Homo sapiens: one gene and its partners. The protein of the gene in region 1 purifies or fractionates together with the protein of each later gene. This does not show direct contact. Each region holds a gene or a part of one and is shown in the gene's direction. Other genes may lie near its edges. The genes, in order: SH3BGRL, MYO5C, SVIL and MYO5B.

What was found.
Region 2: the proteins of SH3BGRL (region 1) and MYO5C purify together in Homo sapiens (affinity purification with mass spectrometry; 2 studies listed by BioGRID and IntAct, with this or other methods). This does not show direct contact.
Region 3: the proteins of SH3BGRL (region 1) and SVIL purify together in Homo sapiens (affinity purification with mass spectrometry; 2 studies listed by BioGRID and IntAct, with this or other methods). This does not show direct contact.
Region 4: the proteins of SH3BGRL (region 1) and MYO5B purify together in Homo sapiens (affinity purification with mass spectrometry; 2 studies listed by BioGRID and IntAct, with this or other methods). This does not show direct contact.

The regions. Positions count from the first base shown.
Region 1 is NC_000023.11:81,197,472-81,205,807, forward strand, and holds the start of SH3BGRL (adapter SH3BGRL), read left to right. Parts: upstream 1-4,630; 5' UTR 4,631-4,729; coding exon 4,730-4,774; intron 4,775-4,965; exon of another isoform or gene 4,966-5,105; intron 5,106-5,120; exon of another isoform or gene 5,121-5,249; intron 5,250-8,336. UniProt on the Homo sapiens protein: Appears to function as an adapter protein that bridges proteins together or proteins with mRNAs. May function as a ubiquitin ligase-substrate adapter.
Region 2 is NC_000015.10:52,222,182-52,230,032, reverse strand, and holds part of MYO5C (unconventional myosin-Vc), read left to right. Parts: intron 1-719; coding exon 720-900; intron 901-3,416; exon of another isoform or gene 3,417-3,535; intron 3,536-4,474; exon of another isoform or gene 4,475-4,500; coding exon 4,501-4,594; exon of another isoform or gene 4,595-4,824; intron 4,825-4,894; coding exon 4,895-4,958; intron 4,959-5,051; coding exon 5,052-5,132; intron 5,133-6,308; coding exon 6,309-6,489; intron 6,490-7,851. UniProt on the Homo sapiens protein: May be involved in transferrin trafficking. Likely to power actin-based membrane trafficking in many physiologically crucial tissues.
Region 3 is NC_000010.11:29,526,828-29,534,678, reverse strand, and holds part of SVIL (supervillin), read left to right. Parts: intron 1-1,220; coding exon 1,221-2,150; intron 2,151-2,506; coding exon 2,507-2,677; intron 2,678-3,390; coding exon 3,391-3,425; intron 3,426-4,010; coding exon 4,011-4,072; intron 4,073-4,834; coding exon 4,835-4,974; intron 4,975-7,622; coding exon 7,623-7,718; intron 7,719-7,851.
Region 4 is NC_000018.10:49,821,756-49,828,465, reverse strand, and holds the end of MYO5B (unconventional myosin-Vb), read left to right. Parts: intron 1-1,842; coding exon 1,843-1,995; 3' UTR 1,996-5,677; downstream 5,678-6,710. UniProt on the Homo sapiens protein: May be involved in vesicular trafficking via its association with the CART complex. The CART complex is necessary for efficient transferrin receptor recycling but not for EGFR degradation.

The DNA.
Region 1 (8,336 bases):
TAGGTGATCTGGAACTCTCTTGATAAAGGGAATTTAAAATATTGGAAGGTATTTTATAATACATGAAAAATATCAAAGACCTCAAGAGGAAAGTGAGGAATTATCAGGGCGAGAAAAGAGGGTGAATTACAACTCCAAAGAGCTCAGTGATGATAAAGAGTGCTTCTGCTGAGGGGGTATTTGCTGATCAAGAAAATTCAGCTACTTTTGGTGTGGCAAATGAAAATAACTCACCTGGAGACTCTTAGTTCTGAGTGAGGGGTGAGAGCATAGCAGTGTCCACTTGAGAAGGGAAAGGGATGTCATACTACGGTAGTATAAGACAAATTATGTTCATTTTGCAAAATGAAAAAAAAAAAACAGAAGAAAGAGTCTCCTGTTGCATAGGCCGAAAAGTGCAATAGCAGTAGCCCTGATGTTGGCAATGAGGAGGGTGACTAGATCATGCTGACTTACTTTTGCCTGATTATTTGTATAAAGATTTTGAGTTGTGTCTAGCAAAGGCAAGAGTTGGATAAGTGGAGAGGGCAGAAAAGGTTATGAGAATGTGGGGAGAAGGTGAAGAAAGAAACAGGAAGAGCAAAGGCATGAGAGTGATCATAAGCATGATGATTGCAGCAGGTAGTCAACAATGATTACGTACATAGGGAAGTTAGTTTGGGGGAGCACTAAGTAAGATTGTATGAATAGTGTGGGCCTAGATTATGGTGAAAACTGTTTAGCAACATAATTTAGGTTTAGTTCGATAGTCAATGGAGAGCTAATTTAAGTATTTCTGCCTACGTTGTCTTCAGTAATATAAGAAAGTGGTGTTTTAGGATGAAAAAATTGCTAACTTTTTTTTTAGTACTTTCACTCTTCCAGGCAGTGAGTTAACAGTAATAGTTAAGAAGGTGGCCTCTGGAGGCTAGCAGCATCCTGATACCAAAGCCTGGCAGAGACACAACAACAAAAAAGGAGAATTTTAGGCCAATATCTCTGATGAACATCGATGTGAAAATCCTCAGTAAAATACTGGCAAACAGAATCTAGCAGTACATCAAAAAGCTTATCCACCACGATCAAGTTGGCTTCATCCCTGGGATGCAAGGCTAGTTCAATATATGCAAATCAATTAATGTAATCCATCACATAAACAGAACTAATGACAAAAACCACACGATTATCTCAATAGATGCAGAAAAGGCCTTCGAAAAAATTTAACAGCCCTTCATGCTAAAAACTCTCAATAAACTAGGTATTGATGGAACATATCTCAAAATAATGAGAGCTATTTATGACAAACCCACAGCCAATATAATACTGAATGGACAAAAACTGGAAGCATTCCCTTTGAAAACTGGCACAAGACAAGGATGCCCTCTCTCACCAATCCTATTTAACATAGTGTTGGAAGTTCTGGCTAGGGCAATCAGGCAAGAGAAAGAAAGAATGGGTATTCAATTAGGAAAAGAGGAAGTCAAATTGTCCCTGTTTGCACATGACATGATTGTATACTTAGAAAATCCCATTGTTTCAGCCCAAAATCTCCTTAAGCTGATAAGCAACTTCAGCAAAGTCTCAGGGTACAAAATCAATGTGCAAAGATCACAAGCATTCCTATACACCAATAACAGACAAACAGAGAGCCAAATCATGAGTGAACTCCCATTCACAATTGCTACAAATAGAATAAAATACCCAGGAATCCAACTTACAAGGGATGTGAAGGACCTCTTCAAGGAGAACTACAAACCACTGCTCAATGAAATAAAAGAGGACACAAACAAATGGAAGAACATTCCGTGCTCATGGATAGGAAGAATCAATATCGTGAAAATGGCCATACTGTCCAAAGTAACTTATAGATTCAATGCTATCCCCATCAAGCTACCAATGACTTTCTTCACAGAATTGGAAAAAACTACTTTAAAGTTCATATGGAACCAAAAAAGAGCCCACATGGCCAAGACAATCCTAAGCAAAAAGAACAAAGCTGGAGGCATCATGCTACCTGACTTCAAACTATACTACAAGGCTACAGTAACCAAAACAGCATGGTAGTGGTACCAAAACAGATATATAGACCAATGGAACAGAACAGAGGTCTCAGAAATAACACCACACATCACAACCATCTGACCTTTGACAAACCTGACAAAAACAAGCAATGGGGAAAGGATTCCCTATTTAATAAACGGTGCTGGGAAAACTGGCTAGCCATATGTAGAAAGCTGAAACTGGATCCTTTCCTTACACCGTATACAAAAATTGACTCAAGATGGATTAAAGATTTAAATGTAAGACCTAACACCATAAAAACCCTAGAAGAAGACCTAGGCAATGCCATTCAGGACATAGGCATGGGCAAAGATTCATGACTAAAACACTGAAAGCAATGGCAACAAAAGCCAAAATAGACAAATGGGATCTAGTTAAACTAAAGAGCTTCTGCACAGCAAAAGAAACTATCATCAGAGTGAACAGGCAACCTACAGAATGGGAGAAAATTTTTGCAATCTACTCATCTGACAAAGGGCTAATATCCAGAATCTACGAAGAACTTAAACAAATTTACAAGAAAAAAACAACCCCATCAAAATGTGGGCAAAGGATATGAACAGACATTTCTCAAAAGAAGACATTTATGCAGCCAACAGACATATGCAAAAATGCTCATCATCACTGGTCATGAGAGAAATGCAAATCAAAACCACAATGAAATACCATCTCATGCTAGTTAGAATGGCAATCATACAACAGATGCTGGAGAGGGTTTGGAGAAATAGGAATGCTTTTATACTGTTGGTGGGAGTGTAAATTAGTTCAACCATTGTGGAAGACAGTGTGGCGATCCCCCAAGGATCTAGACTAGAAATGTCATTTGACCCAGCAATCTCATTACTGAGCATATACCCAAAGGATTATAAATCTTTCTATAATAAAGACACATGCACATGTATGTTTATTGCAGCACTATTCATAATAGCAAAGACTTGGAACCAACTCAAATGTCCCAGTGATAGACTGGATTAAGAAAATGTGGCACATGTACACCATGGAATACTATGCAGCCATAGAAAAGGATGAGTTCATGTCCTTTGCAGGGACATGGATGAAGCTGGAAACCATCATTCTAAGCAAACTATCACAAGGACAGAAAACCAAACACCACATGTTCTCACTCATATGTGGGAGTTGAACAATGAGAACACATGGACACAGGACAGGGAACATCACACCCCGGGGCCAGTCGGGGGGTGGGGGGCTGGAGGAGTGATAGCATTAGGTGAAATACCTAATGTAAACAACGAGTTGATGGGTGCAGCAAACCAACATGGCACATGTATACCTATGTAACAAACCTGCACGTTGTGCACATGTACCCTAGAATTTAAAGTATAATTAAAAAAAAATAAGAAGGTGGCCTCTGGAGTTCCTAACTCTGGAATGTACTAACCATATGATTTTAGGAAAACTATTTTTCTGAGTTTCAGTTTCTTCATCTGTAAAATTAATGTAATAGTACCCACCTCTTGAGGTTGTTTTAAGGACAACATGTAAAGAGATTAATTTGGAATTAGTATTTAAGACAGATTGGAGAAGGGAAAACCTGTGGGTAGGGAACAGTTAACAAAGCTATTGTAAGCACTGAGCCTAGGCAAAGACAGTAAACCACTAGACTGGAGACAGTGGAAAAACAGCAAAGGAAAAGAAGTAGGACAAGCGACTGACTCCTCTCCACTCTCATTCATCTTGCAAATTCCTTTTTTTCTGTTCATTTAACATAATCTGGGAACCTAAAACTACACTTTGAAGTATATGGTCTGTCTCTGGACATTATTAACTGTTTGCTCATTTCCTTAGAGCTACAAATAACCATCTGATCTCTCTCTTCACCATTTCAACATCTGCAATATGTTCTCCCAAATCCCTTACTTCAGTCAGTTAAAAAGCAAAACAAAACAAAAATCATCCATCTTTTTACACAATATTTTCAATCTTTTCTTTGTAATTTATTCCTTCATTCTTAAACTTGCCAATCAGGCCTCCTGCAAATTCCCACGGAAGCAGGGTTCCCTAATTTAACAAAACACAAAATTCAAAAAGAAAACCAATCCTGCCATTTCTGGGCTTAAGGAAACCTGAAACTTTCCTTCAAAACTCTGCAGCATTGCTCAGTACTTTAGTGCCTAATTCCTACAACGAGCTAAGATCAGAAAAATCACTACGTAATAGGAATCTTAAAATGCGCAAGGCTTTGAGAACATGGGTTTTCAACATACAGCTTGCTCTTTCAGGATCTGTCTTCTTATTTGCATATATTTCTGAGCAGGAAGTTATGCGCAGTACTTTTAGTCTCCGCGTGAAAAGGTCCTTCATGCTAATCTAATTCAATTCAGTTCTCCTTTTTCTTTCTTCTTCTCCTCGCCCTCTTCTCAGGGAAGGAATCGTCAAAAATCAATGTTTCAACAGATCTCGCGGTGCTATTCGAGATTCCCTATTAAAAAAAAATAGAATTGATGCAAACAGCCTGTTCCTTCCGGGGTTTTGGGCTGGAACTGCAGCGCTTAGAGAGCTCGGTGGAAGCTGCTAAAGGCGGAGGCGGGGCTCTGGCGAGTTCTCCTTCCACCTTCCCCCACCCTTCTCTGCCAACCGCTGTTTCAGCCCCTAGCTGGATTCCAGCCATTGCTGCAGCTGCTCCACAGCCCTTTTCAGGACCCAAACAACCGCAGCCGCTGTTCCCAGGATGGTGATCCGTGTATATATTGCATCTTCCTCTGGCTCTACAGCGGTAAGGAGAGTGGGGAGTCCACCTTTGTTGTTTTCCTACACACCAGTCCTCTGCTGCCCCAGAACCATTAAAATGCAGAAGTTCCTCTGGCAGCTTCTCCTTTGGAAGACTCATGCATCCCCGATCCCACCCTTCTTCTTCCCTTTTTTCCCTTTGTTGCATCGATTTCATTTTTTTTTTTTTCCACATAGAGTTCAGCTTTGTTTGCTTCGTGACGTTGGGGGGCACATTTCTGCTTTGAAGGAAAACGAAAGCTACCAAGTTTTGGGAGATGGGAGATGGTGCTATACGGTCTTTAGGGTTACGTGAAGTCAAGTAAAATCGCACACTGGTGAGTTTCAAGAGTGAGACATTTGATGAATACGCCCTAAGTACTGAGACAAGGAGGAGTGCACTTCTGTAAAGGATGGGGGTACACATGCTGTAACTGGTGGGGATTGAGTGGAGGCCTACCGAGGCATTGTAATTATTCTGGGTGAGTGAGACCCTGGTAATAGAGTTATTTTGAGAGTGTGTAGAAGAAAGTGGTTAACTTGAGCTTGAAGGCCTGTTAGAACTAGACAAATTGGGAGGGGAAGTTGGTAACAATGACGTAAATTTTTTTTTAACTTAATATGACACGAGATTCAGTTTTCCCCCCATATTGTCCCTTATTTTGACTGTTTCTATTCTTTCAAAATATTTTACTTTTAAATTTCTCTCACTGCTTCAAGTATATTGAGAACTGGATAGGGAGCTCAGTGGCTTCTTGTGTAGTGGCAGCCTGAGTTGCTGCTGCTTCAAATGATAGGACTTTCTCTTTCATGGATTCACTTACTCTTAATTTAGAATAACAAATTTTCAGCAGCTGTCGGGAGAATATGATAAACTGGGGTGCAAGATGAGTGTATATCCATGATAAATGAAAGTGCTTCTGCTTTTTACAACTCAAGAGAAAGGCAGACAGTGGCAAGAACAGATGTGTGGGTTCAGATTGTAGGGTATAGGAACCCCTTCCCTCTTCTTGAGCTTTAGAGCAGCAGCTAATCCAGGTTGTTGTGTGTTTTTATTTTTTGGCTTGTTTATTTACACCTGAGAGGATGTGGAATGGAAGTGGAGGTTATGTTAAATCACAAGAACCTTGATATTTGAACTTTGTCTTCTCTGGCCACCATGTGTGGATATGTTTATGCAATTTTGGAATATCAGAAAATTTAATCTTACATTTTTTGAATAAGTTTAGGTTAAAAAAAAGAACACCTTTTATATTTCCTTTGGACCTAATTTTATGAGCCTCTTGCTTTATTATTTTCCATACATGTTGTCTAATATTTCAAAGTAAAATTTGAGTTGCTCAGAGTCTCAACTCAATCCAATAATTGTAAAGTCCAACTTAATGCCTTTAGTTAAACCCCTAATGAGACTGAACAGATCAGGCAGTTAGTTTTGCTTTGGGAGTCATACAGTTTCAATACTGTTATTTATTCTTTGCTTTCTCCTTCCTCTACCCCTTCTTTAAAAGTAGATTCAACAAGAAACTGCTTTCAGAATTTCTATTCAAGTAAGAATAACTGCACCTCTCTTTGTTAAGTCTTAAGTTTCCAAGAGCCTTAGAAATGGCTGCTGTCTTCTATTATTTCCTTTATTGGACTCCTTTTTTTTTTTATTTAGATTTCAACTTTTATTTTAGATTCAGAGGGTACATGTGCAGATTTGATGCATGGGTATACTGTGCAAGGTTTGGGGTACCATTGAACCTCTCACCCTGGTAGTGGGCGTAGTACCCAATAGGTAATTTTACAACCTTTGCCTTCCTCCCTCCCTCCTCTGTAGTCTTCAGTGTCTATTCTTCCCATCTTTGTTGGACTTTATTGTTGAAGACCATGCAAATGGCAGATGTTTATGGTATTTGTATTTTATTTCAATTTTTTGTCATGAGTAGTTAGAAATTTATTAGAAATTTATCTACTGTAGTAATTATAGTTCAATGAACCTGTTATCAAAATTCTACTTCATAATGCCAAAATAAATCCTTGCTTTATTATACTATTACAACACTTTTAAATAATACCAAAACAGTGTAAAGTGAGTACTTCTTTGTAACATGAATGGAGTGGTGATTATTTACTTCAGAAAGGCACTTTTCAGTTTGCTGTACTAAAGTTTTCCTTTAAGATTGATGCCCTGTTTGTTTTAATACATAAGTTAGAAAGTTTTGAGCAAATATCCTGATGGAGTCCTACAATTGCACATAGTGAGATACTTCAATAAGTGACTAAGTTTAGTTGTCTGAAGAACAGTTAAAAGCTTCTTTGCTTTGGATTGGTGGTAGCTGACTGTTTCTTAATCTTCCTACTGGTTGTCATTAAAAAAAAAAACAACAGATGTTATACTGGTTATACTGGGCAGAGTGGGGGATCTGGATCTGTGATAATTGGCAAGACAATGTTAACTTATTATGGTGGCGGGCGCCTGCAGTCCCAGCCACTCGGGAGGCTGAGGCAGGAGAATGGCGTGAACCCAAGAGGCGGAGCTTGCGGTGAGCAGAGATCGCACCACTGCAATCCAGCCTGGGCAACAGAGCGAGACTTTCTCTCAAAAACAAAACAAAACAAAAAAAGTGGCCTAATAGTGAAGAGTAGCACTTGCTTCTTGAAAGTTTAGAAATGAAAACAAGTATGTTGGTCTTTGCAATGGATTTCATTTTTTATTTTTATTGATATATCATAATTGTGCATATTTATGGGGGACATATGATCTTTTGATACATGCACACAATGTGTGATGATCAAATTAGGGTAATTAGGATATCCGTTACCGCAAACATTTATCATTTATTTGTGGTGGGAACATTCCAAACATTCTAGCTGTTTTTTCTAGCTATACAGTAAATTATATTGGTAACTATAGCCACCCTATTGTGCAATTGAACAGTGGATCTTATTCCTTCTATCTAACTGTATTTGTGTACTCATTAACCAACCTCTCTTAATCCTTCTTTCCCCCTACCCTTCTCAGCCTCTGGTAACCACCATCCATTCTACCCAATATCTTCATGGGATCGACTTTTTTAGCTCCCACATGGGTGAGAACGTGTGGTATGTCTTTTGTCTTTCTGTGTTATGTCTTAGTTCACTTAAAATAATGTCCTCCAGGCTCATCCATGTTGTCACAAATAACAGAATATCATTTTTATGGCTGAATAATATTTTATTTTGTGTGTGTATATATATGTGTGTATATATAAGTGTGTGTATATATATGTGTGTGTGTGTGTGTGTATATATATATATATATATATATATATCACATTTCCTTTATTCATTCACCGTTGATGGACACTTAGCCACATATCATAGTTATTTTGAATAGTTCTTTAATAAACATGGGAGTGCAGATATTTCTTTGATATACTGATATCCTTTCTTTTGGATATATACCCAAAAGTGAGATTGCTAAATCATGTGATAGTTCTATTTTTGTTTTTTGAGGAACCTCTATGCTGTTTTCCATGGCAGCTCTAGATCATGTGGTAGTTCTATTTTTGTTTTTTTGAGAAATCTCTGTGCTGTTTTCCATAGCA
Region 2 (7,851 bases), on another chromosome or scaffold:
CTCCAGCAGGATCCTTGGAACGAGGAAGGAGCCAGGACTTAGCAGAGCACGCCAAGGTATTCGCTGAAGGAAACTGGCCCTTCCAGGGGACTGCATGGAACCCGGGGGGTTGGGAATACAGTGCCCCAAAACCCAGTGTGTCTTTTAAGTTCAGCCTCCCTAGCCAGTGTGCCCTGTGCGTGATCACTGTAAAGCCACACCTTTCAAATCAGGAGGTGTAAGAAGTTGTCTTTAACCTAAGGGAAGAGGAAACAGTTTGCTAAAAATAAGGCCATTACCTGCTGGAACTGTCACAGTAGGTTCTAATTAACTTGTCTCCTCTTGTTGTTTTCAAAATGATGTATTCTAATTCAAAGTAAAGACTGTAGAGACAATTCTAAATTATTTTCTTCTTTTTTAGGGGGTGTTGTGGGGAGGGTCTCACTCTGTCACCCAGATTGAAGTGCAGTGGCACGATCTCAGCTCACTGCAGCCTGGACCTCCTGGGCTCAAGCGATTCATCCACCTCAGCCTCCTGGGTAGCTGGGACTACAGGCGTGCTCCACCACACCTGACTAATTTTTGTATTTTTAGTGGGGACGGGGTCTCTCTTGTTGCCCAGGCTAGTCTTGAACTCCTGGGCTCAAGGGATCCGCCTGCCTTGGCCTCCCAAAGTGCTGGGATTACAGGTTTCAGCCACCATGCTCAGCTCTAAATTATTTTCTTCTTTTGCTGCGTAGGCTTCTTGAAAAAAGTTTTGAACTGAAAACACAAGACTATGAGAAGCAGATTCAGTCTTTGAAAGAAGAAATTAAAGCTCTCAAGGATGAGAAGATGCAACTCCAACACCTGGTGGAGGGGGAGCACGTCACTTCTGATGGCTTGAAGGCGGAAGTGGCCCGCCTGAGCAAGCAGGTCAAGGTAGAGCGGCTCTCACGTTCAGCCCCGCCCTCTGGTTACGTCATTTGATTGCAATTCCAAGTTCCCACAGATTAGACAGCTAAAAGCATCTGTGTAAAGGCCACAGGCAACTGGAGCCTGATTCCTTCAGTCCTTCCAACTGTGCACCTCCAGGCTGCCTTTGATTTAGCAATCATTGTATTCCATATTTTAAAAGTCAACTTTCTAACTTTTTTGAAATTACATTTATGTAAAGTTATTTAAATATGTCGATGTAGAGAATACTCCCAAATTAGACTGTAAATTGAGGTGAATCCTTATTATATAATCCATCACTATAAATCTATAAACACCTGCATTAAAGTTAAGTTACCTTATTATCAAAATCTTTCATTTAAACTGTTATTAGAAAATTTACTAAAACAATTATCCAATGCACAGTGTGGTGAATGTAGTTAATAAGAGCATATTGTACATTCAAAATTGCTATGAGTAAATCTTAAATGTTCTCACCACAAAAAATGACAAGTATTTGAGGTGATAACATGTTAATCAGCTTGAATTATTCCACAATATATTCATAAATTATAACATCAATAAAGCTATAAATTTTCAATGGTAGAAATTTTTAAGTAAATTTTTATAAAGCTGAGAAGGAAAAATCACATAGAATTTTTAAAACTGCATAATGATATATAAAAATATTGTTACCTGCCGGGCACGGTGGCTCAGGCCTGTAATCCCAGCACTTTGGGAGGCCAAGGCAGGTGGATCATGAGGTCAGGGGTTCTAGACCAGCCTGACCAACATGGTGAAACCCTGTCTCTACTAAAAATACAAAAATTGGCTGGGCGTGGTGGCAGGTGCCTGTAATCCCAGCTACTCAGGAGGCTGAGGCAGGAGAATTGCTTGAACCTGGGAGGCGGAGGTTGCAGTGAGCCGAGATCGCGCCACTGCACTCCAGCCTGGGTGACAGACCGAGACTCCGTCTCAAAAAAAAAAAAAATTGTTACCTGTATCTATCATTAAAAATATATAAATATTCCTGGGCAATTTAATAAAATGCTCTAGAGAAAAATGAATGAATGGATGAAGTAATGATCCATGCTTGGACAATCAAGGCTTAAGTGAATTGTTTCCCTACCAGAAAAGTTAAACCTGAGTGTACCTACGTTCTTAAATGTAAGACATTTCATCATTAAGTTGGAAAGCTTTTAAGCTTCTACTAAATATGTGAAATACATATTAGTAGAGTATTTGTAGGATTATGGAAATAGTCTCTGTAATTGTCATGAACTAGCCATGCGTGGTTTAGAAGAGCTTTTGGAATTGCATCCGGGTGGCCACTGAATTCCACAACTGAAGTGTCTGTCTTTTCTGGGCCCCGTCCCCTATTGTTTAAAAGTAGGAGGTCAGACCACATGATCAGGAAGGGTCACTTTCATTCCTGTGACTGCTTCACTCTTAGCAGCCACATGAGCCTGATGTCAGTCAGTCTGTGGGAGTCCTGTCATCTGGCTGAGGTCTGAGGTCTGTATCTTAAATGTAGGAACTTGTGAGACTGCGCTTGCAGAGAGGTACCAGTAGGTGTCACTCACTTCCTCTTTGGTAGCTAAGACTGGTTCACTCTCCAATGTGATCCATTAAGATTACTTGGGGCTGGGCACGGTGGCTCAGGCCTGTAATCCCAGCACTTTGGGAGACTGAGGTGGGCGGATCACGAGGTCAGGAGATCAAGACCATCCTAGTTAACACGGTGAAACCCCATCTCTACTAGAAAAAAAAAAAAAAATTAGCCGGGCGAGGTAGCACACACCTGTAGTCCCAGCTACTCGGGAGGCTGAGGCAGGAGGGTCGCTTGAACCTGGGAGGTGGAGGTTGCAGTGAGCCGAGATTGCACCACTGAACTCCAGCCTGGGTGACAGAGTGAGACTCCGTCTCAACAAAAAAAAAAAAAAAAAAATTACTCTGGGTTTTTGTGTTTTGTTTTTTGGGTTTTTTTTGAGACAGAGTTTTGCTCTTGTCACCCAGGCTGGAGTGCAATGGCACCATCTTGGCTCACTGCAACCTGCCTCCCAGGTTCAAGCGATTCTCATGCCTCAGCCTCCCAGGTAGCTGGGATTACAGGCATCTGCCACCACACCTGGCTAATTTTTTTTTGTATTTTTAGTAGAGACAGGGTTTCACCATGTTGGCCAGGCTGGTCCTGAAGTCCTGACCTCAGGTGATCCACCCGCACTAGCCTCCCAAAGTGCTGAGATTACAGGCGTGAGCCACCGTGCCCAGCCTACTCTGGTTTTCAAAGAAAATAACTCATGATCATCAAGTTATATGTGTTATAGTCAGTCTTAAAAGCCTAAGTAAATGCAAATCTGACTTGGAACATTTACTGAAACATTACAAAGAAAAGCATGGCCTTCAGGATTTGGATAGTCCTGAGTCCCCCATAAACCTGGCATGTGACCCTGAACGTGCCAGTCAGCCTTCAGTTAAATGTAGCTGCTGTTTGCTAATTGAGAAAAGATCACTCTACTTACCTCATAGGCCTGTTAGGAGGATTAGGTCTTCTAGGTAAAGTGCTCAGCACATATCAGTTTGATTCTCCTGCTTACTCTCTGTAGAAACAGGGGCTGGAGCCCTTAAATACTCAGGGTAACTGAAAAAATATCAAGGAGAGTTTATTCACCTCTGCTGTCCCTGAAAGTCCTTATATCTCCCTCAGATACAAAGCAAAAGCACAGACCTGTGATTCTTATTCAAGCTGAGCTCACAAGGGAGAATAAAGGCAGAATACTGCCTCTTCCCCACAACCAGAGCTGCCCAGGCCACCTCCTTCCCAACAGCCAGCTAACTCCCAGACCTCCTGGACTCACCAGTCTCTGCCACTGCTCCACATCTAAGCTGAGCTGAAGCCAAAACCCACAGTTATGAAGGTGGCAACTTTGCCCATGTCCTTGCACTCAATATTTTATTATCCATTAAAAGAGAATTTTAGCCCGTGATTTTACCTTTCTCAGTCTTCCCCCTGTCCCACCCCACCCCAAGCTTATAGTAGGTATTTTTTTTTCTTTATGTAACAGGGAAGTTAATTTTTTTTTTTTTCGAGGTGGAGTTTTGCTCTTGTTCCCCAGGCTGGAGTGCAATGGTGCAGTCTCAGCTCACTAAAACCTCTGCCTCCCGGGTTCAAGCGATTCTCCTGCCTCAGCCTCCCAAGTAGCTAGGATTACAGGCGTCTGCCACCATGCCTGGCTAATTTTTGTATTTTTAGTAGAGATGGGATTTTACCATGTTGGTCAGGCTGGTCTCAAACTCCTGAACTCAGGTGATCCACCTGCCTCAGCCTCCCAAAGTGCTGGGATTACAGGTGTGAGCCACCATGCCTGGCCCAGGGAAGTTAATTCTACTGATACAACCCATTAGATCTGGCATTTTGAGTAGTTAAGCATGCTTCAAGGCCAAGCTGTGTAGGCAGTGATGGTTTAACAAGATTTTAGCTAAGAAAGAAACTGCAGTGAGGATGTCTTGCATAGACACGCAACGCTGTAATTGTGTTCCCTTTGTCTTATATAAAGCATAATCGTTGTTTTTTCTTTACCTGATTCCGTCATTGCTGTGATTCAGACAATCTCTGAGTTCGAAAAAGAGATAGAACTACTTCAGGCACAGAAGATAGATGTGGAGAAACATGTGCAGTCACAAAAACGGGAAATGAGAGGTAATAAAAATATGAGTCTCTTAGTCCATGGGTGCAGACTGAATTTATCATAGCTGTGTCGCTGCTAAGGAAACGTGTCCTTTGGTATGAATTTGGTTGGACATATGGTAGATTGCTTAGTTGATAGGTTGAATAGCTAGTTGGTTGAATACCTGGAAGATTGGTTAGTTGGTTGATTGGATAGCTGGTGAGTTATTTAGCTGGAGACTGTGAAGCTAGAAAACTGGGCCCTGGAAAGGGAATGGGAAAAGATAAATCATCCACAAATGTAATATATACAACTCTGCCTTTCCCTTTCAGAAAAGATGTCAGAGATCACCAAACAACTTCTCGAAAGCTATGACATTGAAGATGTAAGAAGCAGGTAATCATTTTTGCATTATCAAACATTTTAAGACATGTAAACATGTAAAACGTGACAGAGATGATAGATTTTCTTATCTTCCTTATTTTGCAGGCTCTCTGTGGAAGATCTGGAACATTTAAATGAGGATGGAGAACTTTGGTTTGCTTATGAAGGACTAAAGAAAGCAACACGGTTAGAAATTCTCCTCAGGGATCTTCTTTATTTTTCAGAGATAATAAATAGACTATTGGAAAGTCCAAAGTTTACCTTACATAGATTGATACACAAATTCCTTATAGTAGAATGACTGAATAACCACTAGAAATATTTCTCTGAGAAGTAAGTAAGTAGCTTATTCATGAAGAGCAATCTCTTTGTGGGATAAAATGCCTAGTAAAAAACCCCATAACCCATACAGTGAAAACTGATTATCAAATAAGTTAGTTAATGTTGCCAGAAATATGTAGATACATTTAAATTTAAGGCATGTGCTGCATTTATTTAAATTAATAAACTTTATTTTTCACAGCAGTTTTAGGTTCACATCAAAGTTGAGCAGAAATACAGAGAGTTCCCATATATCCCTGCCACCACACACACACAACCTCCCCCACTGTCAACTTCCCAAACCACAGTGATGTGTTTACTATGACTGGTGAACCAACACTGACACGCCACTGTCACCTCAAGTCTATAGTTTACATTAGAGTTCACTCTTGGTGTACATTCTGTAGGTTTTGACAAATGTATAATGACTCGTATCCACAACTGTAGTATCATACAGAACATGTTTTGTTTTGTTTTGTTTCTGAGATGGAGTCTCGCTCTGTTACCCAGGCTGGAGTGCAGTGGCAAGATCTTGGCTCACCGCAACCTCCACCTCCAGGTTTCAAGCGATTTGCGTGCCTCAGCCTCCCAAGTAGCTGGAACTACAGGCATGCGCTACCACACCTGGCTAATTTTTGTATTTTTAGTAGAGACGGGATTTCACCATGTTGTCTAGGCTGGTCTCAAACTCCTGACCTCAAGTGATCCGCCCACCTCGGCCTCCCAAAATCCTGGGATTACAGGTGTGAGCCACTGCGTCTGGCCAGTATTTTTTAAACTATTAAGAGTGTAAAAATATAATAACTTCTAAAATTTTCTTCATTGTTAACTACATATTAACCCCCACATAATGCTTCCTAACTAGCTAGAAGATTTTATAATTAGGCATTCCTGATTCTGTAGCCTGTAACCGTGAGTGCATAAGTAAACTTGATGTACTTCGTGCACGGCTCTTGTTGTGGGTCTTCATAACTGCCTCCCAGCAGTCCATAAAACAGAACAAAGGCCATGTGGTTTATTTCTTGACCCCTCCTTTAATAGTGTTTTGGAGAGCCATTTCCAGTCTCAGAAGGATTGCTATGAAAAGGAGATTGAAGCTTTGAACTTCAAAGTGGTGCATCTCAGTCAAGAAATCAACCACCTGCAGAAGTTATTCAGAGAAGAAAATGACATCAATGAAAGCATCCGTCATGAAGTTACCAGGCTAACATCAGAGAACATGGTATGGTCTCAGCCAGGGGCCCCAGTCGTGGCCATCATACTAGAGTTGTTCTTTGTCAGTGGCGTCAAATTCAGTTTCTTGGCAGTAAAAGAGTGGATATAAATTACTTTTTCCAGAAGTGAAATAACTTGGTCTGGTGATTAAACTATAAAATGACTGCAGACCAGAGAGCACTCTGATACAAGAGTGTGTGTGTTCACCACAGGATGGCTGCAGGCGCTGTGATTGTCTGTGTGTGCGCGTAAGTGTGTATGTTTTAAAGCCTGTATATTTAAATCAAGCCCTAACCCCTTGGAAAGTGACCACAAAATTGAAGGGTAGCTCTTGAGACAGGAGTGTGTCAGAAGGCCAGTCCTGCTCATGCCTGAAATCTCACCTTTTTTTTTTTTTTTTTTGAGATGAAGTCTCACTCTGTTGCCCAGGCTGGAGTGCAATGGCATGATCTCAGCTCACTGCAACCTCCGCCTCCCAGGTTCAAGCAATTCTCCTGCCTCAGCCTCCCGAGTAGCTGGGATTACAGGCGCCCACCATCACGGTCAGCTAATTTTGCATTTTTAGTAGAGACAGGGTTTCACTATGTGGGCAAGGCTAGTCTCGAACTCCTGACCTCGTGATCCGCCTGCCTCAGCCTCCCAAAGTGGCATAAGCCACCGTGCCCGGCCTTCAAATCTCACCTTTTCAAGGGCTTCCTCTTCCATGACGTGCATTCCTAGCCACTGCATTTGTCTCATTCTTTCTTCCAACTCATGCCTACTGGCCTGGAGAAATGCTTTAGGAATCTCCTCATTCAAAAAGCCATCTCTGTCTTAACCCCACACTGCTGTGGCCATCACCCATTTCTTTGGGGTCTTAGTCAGACTTACAAAGACCCTCTAGGCATACTTCCTCCGCACACCTCCCATTCACTGCCCACCACCCCATTCTGTCGTGTGTCCCCACCACTGGCTGACTCTGCCTGCACAGAGCTGAGCACTAAGGGTTCCTTTGCACCCTCATCTTACTCAGTGTCTCAGCAGCCTCTGGCGATGCTAATCTTGCCCTCTCTGCCTTGTTCTCTTGGCTTCCAGGACGCCCCGCTCTCCCAGCATTCTTGTCCCGCCTCACTGGCTGCTGCTCCCCTACTTCCTTACTACCCCCTCCTCTCCCTAAACTGAGAGTGTTAGGAAATCTCGGGGCTGTAGCAGCAGTTGAGGACCAGGGGTGGACACAGGGAACGGTAGTGGGGGACCTTTACATCTTTGTTTATTCCTTGGATGAAACTTTAATGAGGAATTTGCAGTGAGACCCAATTGCACATTCAAACAAGTACAGATGCTCCTCAGCTTACCATGGGGCTACGTCCCAATAAACCCATCGTATGCT
Region 3 (7,851 bases), on another chromosome or scaffold:
CTGAGCAGAGGTCTCTTCCAACCCCACAGCCAGAGCTCTTGGTTTCTTTGTTTTGCAGTAATGGAAAAAGGTCTGTAGCTTTTGAAAAGGATGTCAGTTTTGCTCTCAGATATTTGAATAACTTTAGAAACAACTGGAGCAATCTCTCTTTATTTTTATTTTATTTTTGTTTTTTAGGGACAGAGCCTCTCTCTGTTGCCTATGCTGGAGTGTAGCTGTACAATCATAGCTCACTGCAGCCTCAAACTCCTGGATTCAAGTGGGCCTCCTGCCTCAGCCTCCTAAGTAGCTGGGACTACAGGCACACGCCACTGCACCTAGATATTGTTTTTTACTTTTGTAGAGACAAGATCTCACTATGTTGCCCAAACTGGTCTCAAACTCCTGGCCTCAAATGATCCTCCTGCCCAGGCCTCCCAAAAGGTTGTGATCACAGGCATGAGCCCCAGGGCCCGGCCTCTCTTTTGGGATTCATTTTTAACTAAGAGCATAACAGCAGGACAGGGGGATGGTGGTGGGAAATGTTCACTTCATTAGTTCTGTCAGCAACTATCTTTTCTCTAACATTCTTTTGGTGCTAGAATTATTCATAATGATGCCCAGACTGGCCACATGCCTTCTGAATGAATGAATATACTCTGCATTGCATGAAAAAGCTTGTGAATGTCTAGTTGAGTGCTTTAAAAGAGAGGTGATTGTTGTATCTTGAACTAAATAAAAAGCATAAATAATCGTGAGTGCTCTTACATTTTCAGACGACAATGAAATTACAGCGTTTGGTCAATAGGTGTCTGTATGCCAGGAACCTTCCCCCACAGTCCGTGTTCTGGGCGTGTACATGAGGAAAGCTTACTGATTCAAGGGACCAGGCTCATTATGCCCTAATGCATGCTGGTGGTGGATATTAACGCATTTTTCTGTGGCTTCTGGGTATTTATTTAGTCAGAAGGGACCCATTCTCCCCCAGGATAGCATCTGACCCCTGCCAGCTTTTACAGGGGTAGAGTTAGTTTTGCACCTCCTGGGCATACATATGCAAATTGGAAACTCAACTCAGGATCATCTGACAAGTAGTTGACATTAGACACCAAAATGCTTTTTCACAAGTTATTCTCTCTCAGGTCAGTTTCCATTCACTGGTAATCTGTGATCTACGCATGCTTTCCTCCTGTGAGGCCGTTACTGCACTTTGCAACTTAAATCCTTTTTCTTTCTTAAAGAGTTAAAGTTAGAGAAAAATTGGTGAAAGAGGAAAGTGCTCGAAACAGCCCTGAACTCGCCTCAGAGTCCGTAACTCAGAGGAGACACCAGCCAGCGCCAGTCCATTACGTGTCATTTCAGTCTGAGCACTCAGCCTTTGATAGGGTCCCCAGCAAGGCAGCAGGCTCTACACGACAGCCAATCCGTGGCTATGTCCAACCCGCAGATACCGGTCACACCGCCAAGCTAGTGACGCCAGAAACCCCAGAAAATGCATCTGAGTGTAGCTGGGTAGCATCAGCCACCCAGAATGTCCCCAAACCTCCCAGCTTGACGGTTCTAGAAGGTGACGGAAGGGATAGCCCAGTTCTCCATGTCTGCGAGTCAAAAGCAGAAGAAGAAGAAGGGGAAGGAGAAGGAGAAGAAAAAGAAGAAGATGTGTGCTTCACTGAAGCTCTCGAGCAAAGCAAGAAAACCCTACTGGCTTTGGAGGGTGATGGGCTAGTGAGAAGCCCAGAAGATCCCTCTAGAAATGAGGACTTTGGTAAGCCTGCTGTGAGCACAGTCACCTTAGAGCATCAGAAGGAACTGGAAAACGTGGCACAACCCCCTCAAGCTCCGCACCAGCCCACTGAGAGGACAGGCAGGAGCGAGATGGTTCTCTACATTCAAAGTGAGCCTGTGTCCCAAGACGCCAAACCAACTGGTCACAACAGGGAAGCCTCGAAAAAGCGCAAGGTCCGTACCCGCTCTCTGTCAGATTTCACAGGCCCCCCTCAGCTCCAGGCCTTGAAGTATAAGGACCCAGCTTCCAGGAGAGAGCTGGAGCTGCCCAGCTCCAAGACCGAAGGGCCTTATGGGGAGATCAGCATGCTGGACACAAAAGTCTCTGTCGCCCAGCTCCGAAGTGCGTTCCTGGCATCTGCCAACGCCTGCAGGAGACCTGAACTGTAGGTGATGCTTCACACGCCCTCCAGCTGTGTCACTTGCACGTCCCTGGCAGAATGATTCACTCCTCGACCTGTGTTGTGTTCTGCATTGAATCATATTAGCTTAGCTCACAAGTGCGTGCAGGGCGACTATGCGGAAAATGGCTCAAAAACTACCACTCTGCTTCTGCCTACTAATGGGGAACTAGTGGATTGGGTGTCTGGAATGTCTCCTTCCTTACGTGCATGGTAGAGGCATGAAGAGGGGTTTGGTGGTGTCTGTCCCTTGACTCACGGAGATGCATAATCCTTTGCCATCTTCTCTTTCTCTGTCTTCGTTTGCCTTCCTTATACTCTCTGCCCTTTGATTCTCAAAGCAAATCACGGGTGGAGAGGTCGGCTGAAGGACCTGGCTTGCCCACCGGTGTGGAACGGGAGAGAGGGTCCCGGAAACCAAGACGCTATTTTTCTCCTGGTGAAAGTAGAAAAACTTCCGAGAGATTTAGAACCCAACCTATAACTTCAGCAGAACGAAAGGAATCGGATAGGTAGGCATGCGTATGCGCAGTTTCCTCATCCAGGAACGTGGCAATGACACAGGAGTTTTACCACACTGACGGTCTTGACGCTATTTATATAGGATGTTGGCGATTCCATAATTGTTCCATCTAACCTATAAGCGTTATTTATTTGGCTTATTTAAAAGTCTTTTTAAAGAATATTAGCCTTTACAGCGGTATTATGATACATACACAATTTTACATTGCATTCAGATGATAAGAAGTAAGAAACATTATTTTTCTTTATTTAATGGTTTTAATGTTTTTTACCCCTTGTTAAATTAGACTCCAGATTGCATATTCACCAGATTTTACAGTGAAAATAACTGAGGAATTTTATATTCATTTTATAAATGTCCATCTACTTGTTGTATTTGAGTTTTATACTGAAGTGTCATATACTATTGCATAGAAATGGTAAGATTTGTCTGGAAAATTGTCATCAGTGGTGTTTAACAAGTTGTTCTTGTGCCTGGTCTCTCTCCACGGGGTGTGTACTTGGCTGGGATTGTGTGCACACACGCTCCACAGTGTTGCTTCACAACTGTATGTGTGTTTTCACAACTAGAATTGCTACCAGGAGGTTATTTCTTAAAAGAATTTAATTGCATTTTTATTTTTACTTTCAGTATGATGTTTTATTTCGATCTTCTGCTCCCACCTGCTAATGTATTATTGTTATTTGCTAATGTCTTTCCTAGGTGCACTTCACATTCAGAAACGCCAACTGTCGATGGCAAGTACCTGTTTCCCTTTTTTTTCTTCTTTATTATCTCATCTAGACTGGATTTAATAATAAGGTTTTTGGCTTTTTGAGAGAGTAAGATGATGGAGCATAACAGTGTCTCCCTTTGCTGCAGGTTTTCGTTCTGTGGATATGATAAAATCTAGTTGAAATTTTCAGACAAGCTTTCCCTTCTTTTTGAGAGCAGTTAGAGAATCATACAGTGACCAATGTAAAAACAACTAATTCAAACCAAAGGAGCAGGTTCTTCTTGTTGTTGCTGCTGCTACTATTTAAAACTAAAAGAAATTCCCCCCATAAAATATATTCATGAAATCTCGATCAGACAAACGTTAGAGTAGAAATCCCTGGACAGAGTTTGCTTTGGTTTGGCTGGGTTGAATTGCAAGGGAAATTAGTACCTTTTCACTGAGCAGAAAGAATGGGCTCCCTGCAAGGGGAAACTACCACCAATTATTATTTTAGTGCACCTATTGTTGTATTCAAAGATTTCCAGGTCAGCCCTGAAAGACTTTTTGGAGACCGAACTTAACCTTCTCTAATGATGTCCAGTTTTTAATTTGTGGCTTTTTGCAGATGAAGAAAAGGTGGATGAACGAGCCAAGCTGAGCGTCGCCGCCAAGAGGTTGCTTTTCAGGGTAAGCTGTGCTGACGTGCTTGAATAGAGATCCCTACTGGGTGCAGTAATCCCAGCTATTTGAGAGGCCAAGGCAGGAGAATCACTTGAGGCCAGGAGTTTGAGACCAGCCTGGGCAACACAGTGAGACCCCCATCTCAAAAAAAATAAAAATTGTAAGCCTTAGGGAGGGGGAATCTTGTGGACCCAGCCTACTTCATGCACCTCTGGGCATGCTAAGGCCCTCCTGCCTCTGGCCCACCTGTTGTTCTCTTCCTAATCTTTGGCTGGTTGTGGCCACCTCATGGACACAGCATGAGTGTACACTTCTGACAACAATACGAGGTGCTCATTAGTGACCCCTCCTGTAGGTCCTGTAGGAGAACAAAGTGAAGAATTTTTACTACCCCCATTTCCTTTCCTTGAATTTCTTTGTTATTTTTAATTTTTTTTTAGAGATAGGGTCTCACTCTCTCACTCAGGGTTGAGTGCAGCAATGTGATCATAGCTCACTGCAGCCTCAACTTCCCAGGCTCAAGTGATGTTCCCACCTCAGCCTCCCAAGTAGCTGGGACTACAGGCCTGTGCCAGCATGCCTGGCTAATTTATGCATTTTTTGTAGAGATGAGGGGGTCTCACTTTGTTGCCCAGGCTGGTCTTGAACTCTTGGCCTCCAGCAATCTTCCCTCCTTAGCCTCCCAAAGTGCTGGGATTACAGGCGTGAGCCACCGTGCCCAGCTCTTTCCTTGAATTTATAAGGGTTCCACAATACTTCTAATCTTAGGAGATGGAAAAATCTTTTGATGAACAAAATGTTCCAAAGCGACGCTCAAGAAACACAGCTGTGGAGCAGAGGCTACGCCGTCTGCAGGACAGGTCCCTCACCCAGCCCATCACCACTGAAGAGGTGGTCATCGCAGCCACGTAAGTGCCCACAGGACTTCTCAGCCTTGTCTATAGTGTCTTTTTTTAAAAAAATACATTTAAAGAGTGTTCAATGAAAATGAGGCATTGGGGAGGTGATTTAGCTAGAAGCCACAGAGAAGTTAGTACTAAGGGATTTTGTTTACTGTGGTCTCTCTAAACTTTGTAATGGGATGTGTATCTTCTAGAAAAACTTGAAAGGAGTTTTTGTTCTATTTTGTTTCTGTCTCTGCATATTGATATTTTAAAAATCTCTTTGACAACGGAAAATAGAAACATGAAACTTGGTGGATTGCTGTGATGAAACCCCAGCTTCCACGGTCACCCGCTCCTGGCCGGTGATGCTCAGCCCGTGTGCCATTCATTTCCCCTTTCCTCCTGTGCTATTTTCAAGCAAACACTAGAGGTCTTACCATTTCATCCATAAATATCCCAGTACGCCCCTCTAAAAGATAAGGTTTGTTTTGTTCTTAATTGCCAGAAATCTCTTTTCTTTTTTTCTTTTTTTTTTTTTTTTTTTTTTTTTTTTGAGAGAGAGTCTTGCTCTGTCACCCAGAACGGAGTGCAGTGGCATGATCTCGGCTCACTGCAACCTCCGCCTCCTGGGTTCAAGCGATTCTCCTGCCTCCACCTCCCGAGTAGTTGGGATTACAGGCATGTGCCACCACACTCAGCTAATTTTTGTATTTTTAGTAGAGACGGGGTTTCACCATGTTGGCCAGGCTGGTCTCAAACTCCTGACCTCAGGTGATCCATGCCTCAGCCTCCCAAAGTGCTGGGATTAATTGCCAGAAATTTCTAAAAATTAAATTGCAGTTTGATAACTTTCCAAACAATAGGAAGTTTGTTTTGAATAATATGTTTCAATATATTCAGAATTAATTTCCCAGAGTAGTTCATTCAGAGATCATTGCTTCAATCAAGTGAAAAATTTTCTTATTTTTGCGGGGGGCATTGTTTGTTTTTTTGAGGCAGTGTCTCACTCTGTTACTCAGGCTGGAATGCAGTGCGCCATCTTGGCTCATTACAGCCTCAACCTCCTGGGCTCAATTGACCCTCCAACCTCAGCCTCCCAAGTAGTTGGGACTGTAGGCCCAACCACCACACCTGGCTAATTTTTGTATTTTTTGTGGTGATGGGGTTTTGCCATGTTGCCCAGTCTGATCTTAAACTCCTGGGCTCAAGCGATCCTCCCACCTCAGCCTCCCAAAGTGCTGGAGCTACAGGCGTGAGCCACTGTACCCAGCCTAGTTTTGTTGTTGTTGATGTTGTTAATTGGTTTTGTGCTTACCTTGGACACACAGACACCCTTCCTGGAAAAAAAAATAGTTCATCCCATTAGGTTATTGACATCCCAAAAGGCCTCTATGTCAGTGCCCCGTTCTGTAGACCTGCTGTTAGATCAGCTGCCTACAGTTCCTCCCCGAGTTGTTCCTCAGTTTCTTGGTGCATTTGTAGCTAAGTATATCCTTGCACTCATTAGGAACTCTTTGCAAATCAGTTTGTTTTTTAAAAAAAGAAATATTTGAATGGCTGGTGTAAAATAACAGGCAGATACCCATGGGAGCAAAACAGTAAATATAAGAAAAATTAATCCCATTTTAAGGCTCAATAAATCTACCTTGATGTGCCTATAGATTGTATAAGAACACTGATACTTTTAAAAAGTAGATTGAGGCCGGGTGCAGTGGCTCACACCTGTAATCCCAGCACTTAGGGAGGCAGAGGTGGGTGGATCACCTGAAGTCAGGAGTTCAAGACCAGCCTGGCCAACATGGTGAAACCCCGTCCCTACTAAAAAATACAAAAATATTGGCCAGGCATGGTGGCGCACGCCTGTAATCCCAGCTACTCGGGAGGCTGAGGCAGGAGAAATGCTTAAACCCAGGAGGTGGAGGCTGCAGTGAGCCGAGATCGCGCCACTGCATTCCAGCCTGGGCGACAGAGTGAGACTCTGTCAAAAAAAAAAAAAAAAAAAAAGGCTGGGCCCAGTGGCTTACACCTGTAATCCCAGCACTTTGGGAGGCTGAGGCAGGTGGATCACGAGGTCAAGAGATCAAGACCATCCTGGCCAACATGGTGAAACCTCATCTCTAATAAAAATACAAAAATTAACTGGGCGTGGTGGTGCGCGCCTGTAATCCCAGCTACTCAGGAGGCTGAGGCAGGAGAATCACTTGACCCCGGGAGGCGGAGTTTGCAGTGAGCCAAGATCATGCCACTGCACTCCAGCCTGGTGACAGAGACAGACTCCATCTCCAAAAAAGAAAAAGAAAGAAAAAAATTAGATTGGAAACAATATTCTAAAACACAGACATAATCTACTGATTTTTTGATAGCTAATATTTGCTTTTTTGAATTATTATTTTTTTTACACCAAGACATGTATTCTCAAGACAGAGTAAATCCTCCCAGCTCTGAACACCTATTCTTACCCCATTTGCTTTGGGTAGCCACTATCTCTTATTTCCTGAGTTTGTATTTGCTTTTGAAGTTCTTTCGTGATTTTTTCTCCCCAAAAATAATTAGCAAAATATTCTGTTAAAATTTTTGATTTAACGTTTCTGAATTTAAAACTATGCTGTCCTTAATGCTTCTTTTCTTCTCTCTCCTTATGAATGTTTCCTCTTTGGCAATTGCTTTTAAAGTGAACCTATCCCCGCTTCGTGTTCTGGGGGCACCCACCCTGTAATGGCGAGACTTCCTAGCCCCACTGTAGCTAGGAGCGCTGTGCAGCCTGCCAGGTACTGGACAGATACAGATGCATGCGGCACCCGGTGCAAAGGTGCCGAACAGCAGATGCATCCTAAAGTCTTGAATGTCTGTCGTTTGTTTGACAAACAAGTCAATGCCGTGAGTTGTTCCAGAATGCGTGGC
Region 4 (6,710 bases), on another chromosome or scaffold:
CCTCCCTTAAAGTCTGTCAATTCTCCCTTCAAATATTTTGGGGTTCTGTTGCTAGATGCAGATGTTTATTATATCTTCTTGATGAGTTGAACCTTTTATTAAAATATAATGTCCTTCTTTGTCTCTGGAAATGACTTAATTTCTCCTTCATTCTTGAAGGGTAGTTTTGCCAGATTTAGAATTCTTAGCAGACAAGATTTTTTCCTTTCAGGATTTGAGCTGTGTCATCCCACTGCCTCCTAGCCTCCATGGTTTCTGATGAAAAACAGCTGTTAATCTTATTTGAGGATACCTTATACAGTCAGCCCTCCATATCCACAGGTTCCATATCTGCAGATTCAGCCAACCACAGATTCAAAATTCAGTATTCACAGGATGCAGAACCTGTAGTTATGGAGGGACAACTTTTTCTATCTATAGGTTCTACAGGGCCGACAGCAGTACTTGCATATCCATGGATCTGGGTATCTGTGGGAATTCCTGGAACCAATCCCCCATGGATACTGAGGGATGACTGTATGTGACAAGTCACTTCTTTCTCACTGCCTTCAAGACTCCCTCTTTGTCTTAGGGTTTTGACAATTTAGTATAATGTGTTTCACTGTGAATCTCTTTGCCTTTATCCTGCTTGGAGTTCATTGAACTTTTTGGATGATTACATACATGTCTTTCATCAGATTTGGGAAGTTTCTGGCATTATTTCTTCAAATATTTTGTTGCCCCCTTCTTGCTCTTTTCCTTCTGGTACTCCTGTAATGTGTATGTTGGTATACTTGATGGTGTCCAATAGGTCTGTTAGGCTCTGTTCATTTTTACCTCATTATTTTTATTTTCTTCTCAGACTGGATCATTTCAATTGCTTTATCTTCAAATTCACTGATTTTCTTCTGCCTGCTCAAGTCTGCGGTTAAACTTCTCTAGTGAATTTTTCATTTCAGTTTTTGTACTTTTCCTAAAATTTCTGGCTTCAAATAGGAAGCAGGGAGGGGCTCTGTGCCTTTAAATTTTCCAGTTGATGCCACTAGTGGAAGCCATTGCATCCCAAGGAATGTCTAAACCAAGACAGGCATCTGCTGGGACCCACCAGATCAAAGGGCACAACCCCAAATTTTTGGAGGACAAGGTCCCACTGCCTACCCTGGCCAGCTAGCTACTCCAGGAATGTGAGCTGCTATCCCCATAGCTTCAGGGGAGCTGAAGAGAGGGGGATAGTAGCTGGGTCACACACACAGTTCCCTTAGCAAAGATCAGCAGCCTCTCCCTTTACCAATCAGTCTCCCGATTGTTATAAATGTCCAATCAAGTTCCAGAGTTATGAGATAGTTGACAATCACTGTTTCTACTTCAAGGTAGCTTCAGTGGAGGGACCAATCCCTAGGGCTTCCTACTCTGCCATTTTATGTGATGTACTCTTCTCCCATTCTACAGGTAAAGAAACTGAGGCATAAAAAATTCAGGAATTTGCCCAGGGTGGTGCCAGGATTAGAGCTCAGCTGTCTACCTAAAAAAAAAAACCCATGCCCTTGGCCACTTCACTATAGTGCCTCTCCATATGGTTTGCACCTGAGATGTATTTTATATTCTCCCTTAGACAATTTTTTAAAGAATGCTAGAATTGGGAGAGTGCTTACAGCCCTCTGATCTCCAAGAAGCCTAAGTCAGGGCTTCTCTCCCCACTAAATACCTCAAGGGTGAGGAGATCACATTCTCCTAGTCCTGAAGTTCTACCTAATTGTCGTAGAAATCTTTCCATGATATATGCCAACTCACTTTTGTGAATTCACTTAAACTGGCTATTTTTAGGGGTACTCAAACTTTACATGGTCTTATTCTTCCCCATAGGCACAACTACAAGAGCGGAATGACCCTCAGCAACTGCTATTAGATGCCAAGCACATGTTTCCTGTTTTGTTTCCATTTAATCCATCTTCTCTAACCATGGACTCAATCCACATCCCAGCGTGTCTCAATCTGGAATTCCTCAATGAAGTCTGAAGATGCATGTTTCCAGCATTAGTTTGATTCCCAATGTGAGCAAGAAGGAAGTATATACAGTAAAGTAAATTCAAGGATCTGTTAAATCTGGTAAAAGTAGATCAAATCAGAGATTGACAGCCTGTGGAGGGTGCTGAACTATACAGAATTAGACACAACTATGTCATTATTTTTTGTACCTACTGCTCAGAATAAAAACACTTGAAATATGGAAGATTTTAAGTTTGATTTCAGTCCAACACATATACATAATTTATAGACACCAAGCAGTCCCCATAGACATATAAAAGGTGTCAATTCTATAAAACGAAGCTGCCTAGTTTTGATCTTTGCATAGAACTAGAGAATGTCCAAATTAAAATACCAAATATATATAAGTCACATAAATTGCCTTCAAAGGGCTTTAACAAATAATGGTACTAATAACCATGATAATGGCATATACTGACATTTCCCAAAGTTTGCAAACCATAGGTGTGGTTGAGTTTGTGGTGAGATGTTTTAAGAACAAAAATATGGGGATGAGACTTCTGAGAAATATTCCCAAAATATTTTTTAATGGCTGATTATACACAGACAGTGGTGTAACTGACCTCCAGACCAGACATTTTGAGTACTGGTTTCTGAAGCAAAATTAGAAGTGCCAGTCCTCAGTGTGCTCAAACGCTTTTGTGTTATCTTGATTTAATGGAAGAGATTATTAAAATGCTGCTATCCCAAACTCCAAGTGAGAAAGATGGAAAAATATTTTGTTTCTGATGCTAGTCCATACACTTTCCAAGTCCCACAAAACTTTCACAAAAATGTATATAAGCTAAATATTAGAAACGGATAACAAACTTGTTTTATTTATAGATGTAAAAACCAAACAAGTCAATATGAAAGCTTTTAATCTCTTAATACCATTAAGCTTCCAGTAAGAGCATCACATAATGCTCTACTGTTCCAGAAACCAAATAGTAAAACAAACTAAAGTTCGCACATCAGATCATCTGAAAAACCTTCAAAAATAATCAGTTCAGGGATATTATACAAAAGTTTGGGTTTTTTTTTTTTAAGAGAATAAAATGGCTTAGGTCAACTTTCCCTTTTCAGGTTATTTTCAACGTTTTTCAAATTTAGCACACAAAAAATTGTAAATATCTCTCCCACAAAATAAGGATTTTAAAAAAGTAATTCAGTAATATAACAGGCTTAGATGTTTGCTGCTCTTAGAATTTTTTTTAACTTGTTTTTGGTTTCTTCAAAAGCAAGCATTCAATTGGAAACCCATATTCTTTCCACACTTTTTTTTACTGTCTTTTCTGTATTTCTTGATAGCAGTATGCTGTTCCCATAAGAAAAAAATGGTATTTGCAAATCATGGAAGAACAGCCTCTGTATTACATTGAGAAAATAAGATTTATCCATGAATTGGAAGTAGAACAGCCTGCCTTCACCCTCTTTTACTCAACCACCCAACTTAAAAGGCTCTTGGAAACACAGCACACTCCACGCTACCTTCTGCACTGTGCCCTTAGAGCACAGCTTCCTCAGTTGTTCTCTGCATCTCCTGGGGCTTAGGCCAGTCTTAGCCTGGGTTAAGGCTGCTGACATTGTGTTCCAATCAGTTGTCATGGGCATTATCCCCTCTACATCCACATTAAACATGCCGGCTTCTCTTGGGCATCGGCAGAGCTGTGCCTTTTTCTTTCAGTTACAGTTACATAATCACTGACGTCCATGACACTTACCCATGGATCCATGTGCTGACTTCATTTAGAAGGCCAATCTAAAACAACTGGGTTTGTGGCTACCTCTTTAAAGTTGTTTGTGAAGGATAATTTGTTTTTTAATGCACTTTAGTTTGAAAGTGAGTCTCTTATGTAAGGACCATCCTTAAAAGACCAAAAATGCCTTGTTAGAGTGTTAAGGAGTTTTGACATGCAGTGGTTCCACAAACACAGTGGCTTACTATCCTTATACACTGTCTTATACCATCATTCTCTCCATCTCTCTTGGTCACTACTCTCTGCTGTCACTGGTTAATCACTAGGTGCCAAGAGCTTACTGAATAAAAGCTTGGCAATTAGAATAAATGGGGAGGGAAGGACCTTATGAATAGTCCATTTAGCCTAAGAAATGGCAGATTTAGTTCTTCTCTTCCAAAAGATAAAGGTATATCCTGGAATTGTACTTAAAACTTACAGATGACTAACAAATATATACTTTATATGTAGTTAATATTTAGATCTGTCTTATTTAATACTTGGAGGCTAGAAGAAGCATCTTTAGGGGAACTATATAATCTTTTGTTAGCATTTTCTCTGCATTTTAAAAAATCATTTCAATTCAAACATTTATCAGTGTCATGAAATCAGTAATGACTCTTTAACAATTCAGGTTTGAACTCTGCATTAGATGTCTCTTTAATTTTTTAATATTTAAAATTTAGTTGACATTTTTTTCACCAGGTGCCTTTAGCGGTTACTAAGATAACTGACATCAGTTGTTTCTCTGAAATAAGTGTTGCTGTGGGAATAATTTTAATGTTCAAGGTGATATCATGGGGGAGTTTTGTCTTTTAAAACATTAGAAGCATTTTAAATATTAAGAATCAAATATTTATAGATCAAAACTTGTGTTTTAAGTATTATACGGGACCTGTTTACTTATAGTAAATGTGAATGTACACATGAGTTGTTGCTGAAGCTGACAAGCATATTACATACATGCATTTTCCCTGTGCCCTCATAGTTGCAGTTAGAGTTCCAGTACCTGTAGGCTCACCTGGGAGGCAGATTAGACCCAAAGGTAGATGTTTTTCCCCTTTCCATGAAGCATGTCAGTGGGAGTTGCTTCCTTTGATTTCCCTAGTACTAAATTTTAAGGCTTTTGTAAAAACAAAACAAAACTAGGAGCTTGGAACAGTTAAAAATCAACACTGCTACCATCAATTCATCAAATATTTACTTAGAGCTTTCATACATTAAGATTCCAGTAACCAATAAATTAGAATTCATTTCTTCTGCATAAAGTAAATTTTCATACACTTGACCTACTAAGACAGCAAGGGTGTCCTAAATTGAGGCATTTGTATAATGCCTGCATAACTAAATGGTCACTAAAATGGGACAGCATGGGGCAAGACCTTGTAGTTCTTCACAGAATATTTGTGGTCAGTTTCTCCAATTAATTTGCTGCATGAGCCAAATAACCATAATTCACTTTTTATACCCACTGGTGCCATAATTAGAGAATTAGAGGGTGTAGACAGAGGTTAATGCCAATGAGAAACACAGGACAGGGTTTTTTTTATTATAAAGGTCATTAGATACAAAAGATTGTTTTTCAAAAAATTTCTAATTCTAACAAAGGGGATCAATCAGAAATGAAACTAAGCTACTTTCTAAAGTGACACTGTATCAGAATAATCCAGATTTGAATATAACATTTTGCCACCAACTGACATTTAGATGAAGGACTGCCTCTCTGAAAGAGTTCAGATCATATTCAGGGGTGAATCCAACACCATGGAAGAAAGACTACTGATGAAAATATTTTCCCACTTTGCACAAATCTGTAAACTACACCTTTGTTTATAGAAAAATGCTTGTAATAGTCACTGTAATATTTAGCTGTGGATAAAAATTTGTGGAAATAAATACTTTTGAATAAAGAGGTGTGCCAAATCTAAATGAAATTTAAAACTCTGCAGCTACAGGTTGACAAAGTTTCTTTGTAATGCTCTCTTGAGAAGCTTCATTATGGGGCCTATATTCTAATACGTGTCAAGATCATTTAAACCAGAGGTCAGCATCTTACAGTCCAAAAGTTGGGGGCAGGGAGAAACTCTCAGATAACAAGGCTTATTGAGCAATTACTTTAAAGCTATGGAATTAAAGGCAGTTTTGGTGTAGGCAAAGACAAGTAGATCAACGAAACAGAATAGGGAGTGCAAGGATAGGCCCAATCCTATGTATAACATAGCATACGGTAGAGATGGCATGAAAAATCAGTGGGGAAATAGTCATAAGATCTGTATGGAGGAATTTGTAAAATATAAGTGAAAAACAATGACAACATTAAAATGGAGAAATAATTAGGTACAAGAATTCGAAGACTCCATACCACTAAAAGTTTGTCAGTTGTCCCCAAGTTGATCTATAGATTAAAAATCAAAATTTCAACTGTTTCTATGTGAAAACTGACAAGCTCATTATAAGATTTATATGGAAGAGCAAAGGCCCATGAATAAGGAAGACCCTCCTTGAGAAAGTGGGAAGCTTTCCTTAGCAGGCATTGAGACTTACAAAATTTCAGTAATTAAGATGTGTGAGGATGACAGACATGGAAATTTTTTTTTTTTTTTTGAAACAGAGTTTCGCTTTTGTTGCCCAGGCTGGAGTGCAATGGCACAATCTCAGCTCACCGCAACCTCCGCCTCCCAGGTTCAAGCAATTCTCCTGCCTCAGCCTCCCTAGTAGCTGGGATTATAGGTATGTGCCACCATGCCCAGCTAATTTTGTATTTTTAGTAGAGACAAGGTTTCTCCATGTCTGTCAGGCTGGTCTCAAACTCCCGACCTCAGGTAATCCACCCGCCTCGGCCTCCCAAAGTGCTGGGATTATAGGCGTGAGCCACCGCGCCCGGCCCTGGATGTGGAAAAATTGACCAGTGGAACAGAATAGCCCAGAAACTGAGCATCTATATGGAAATACTGATACATTTTTTCT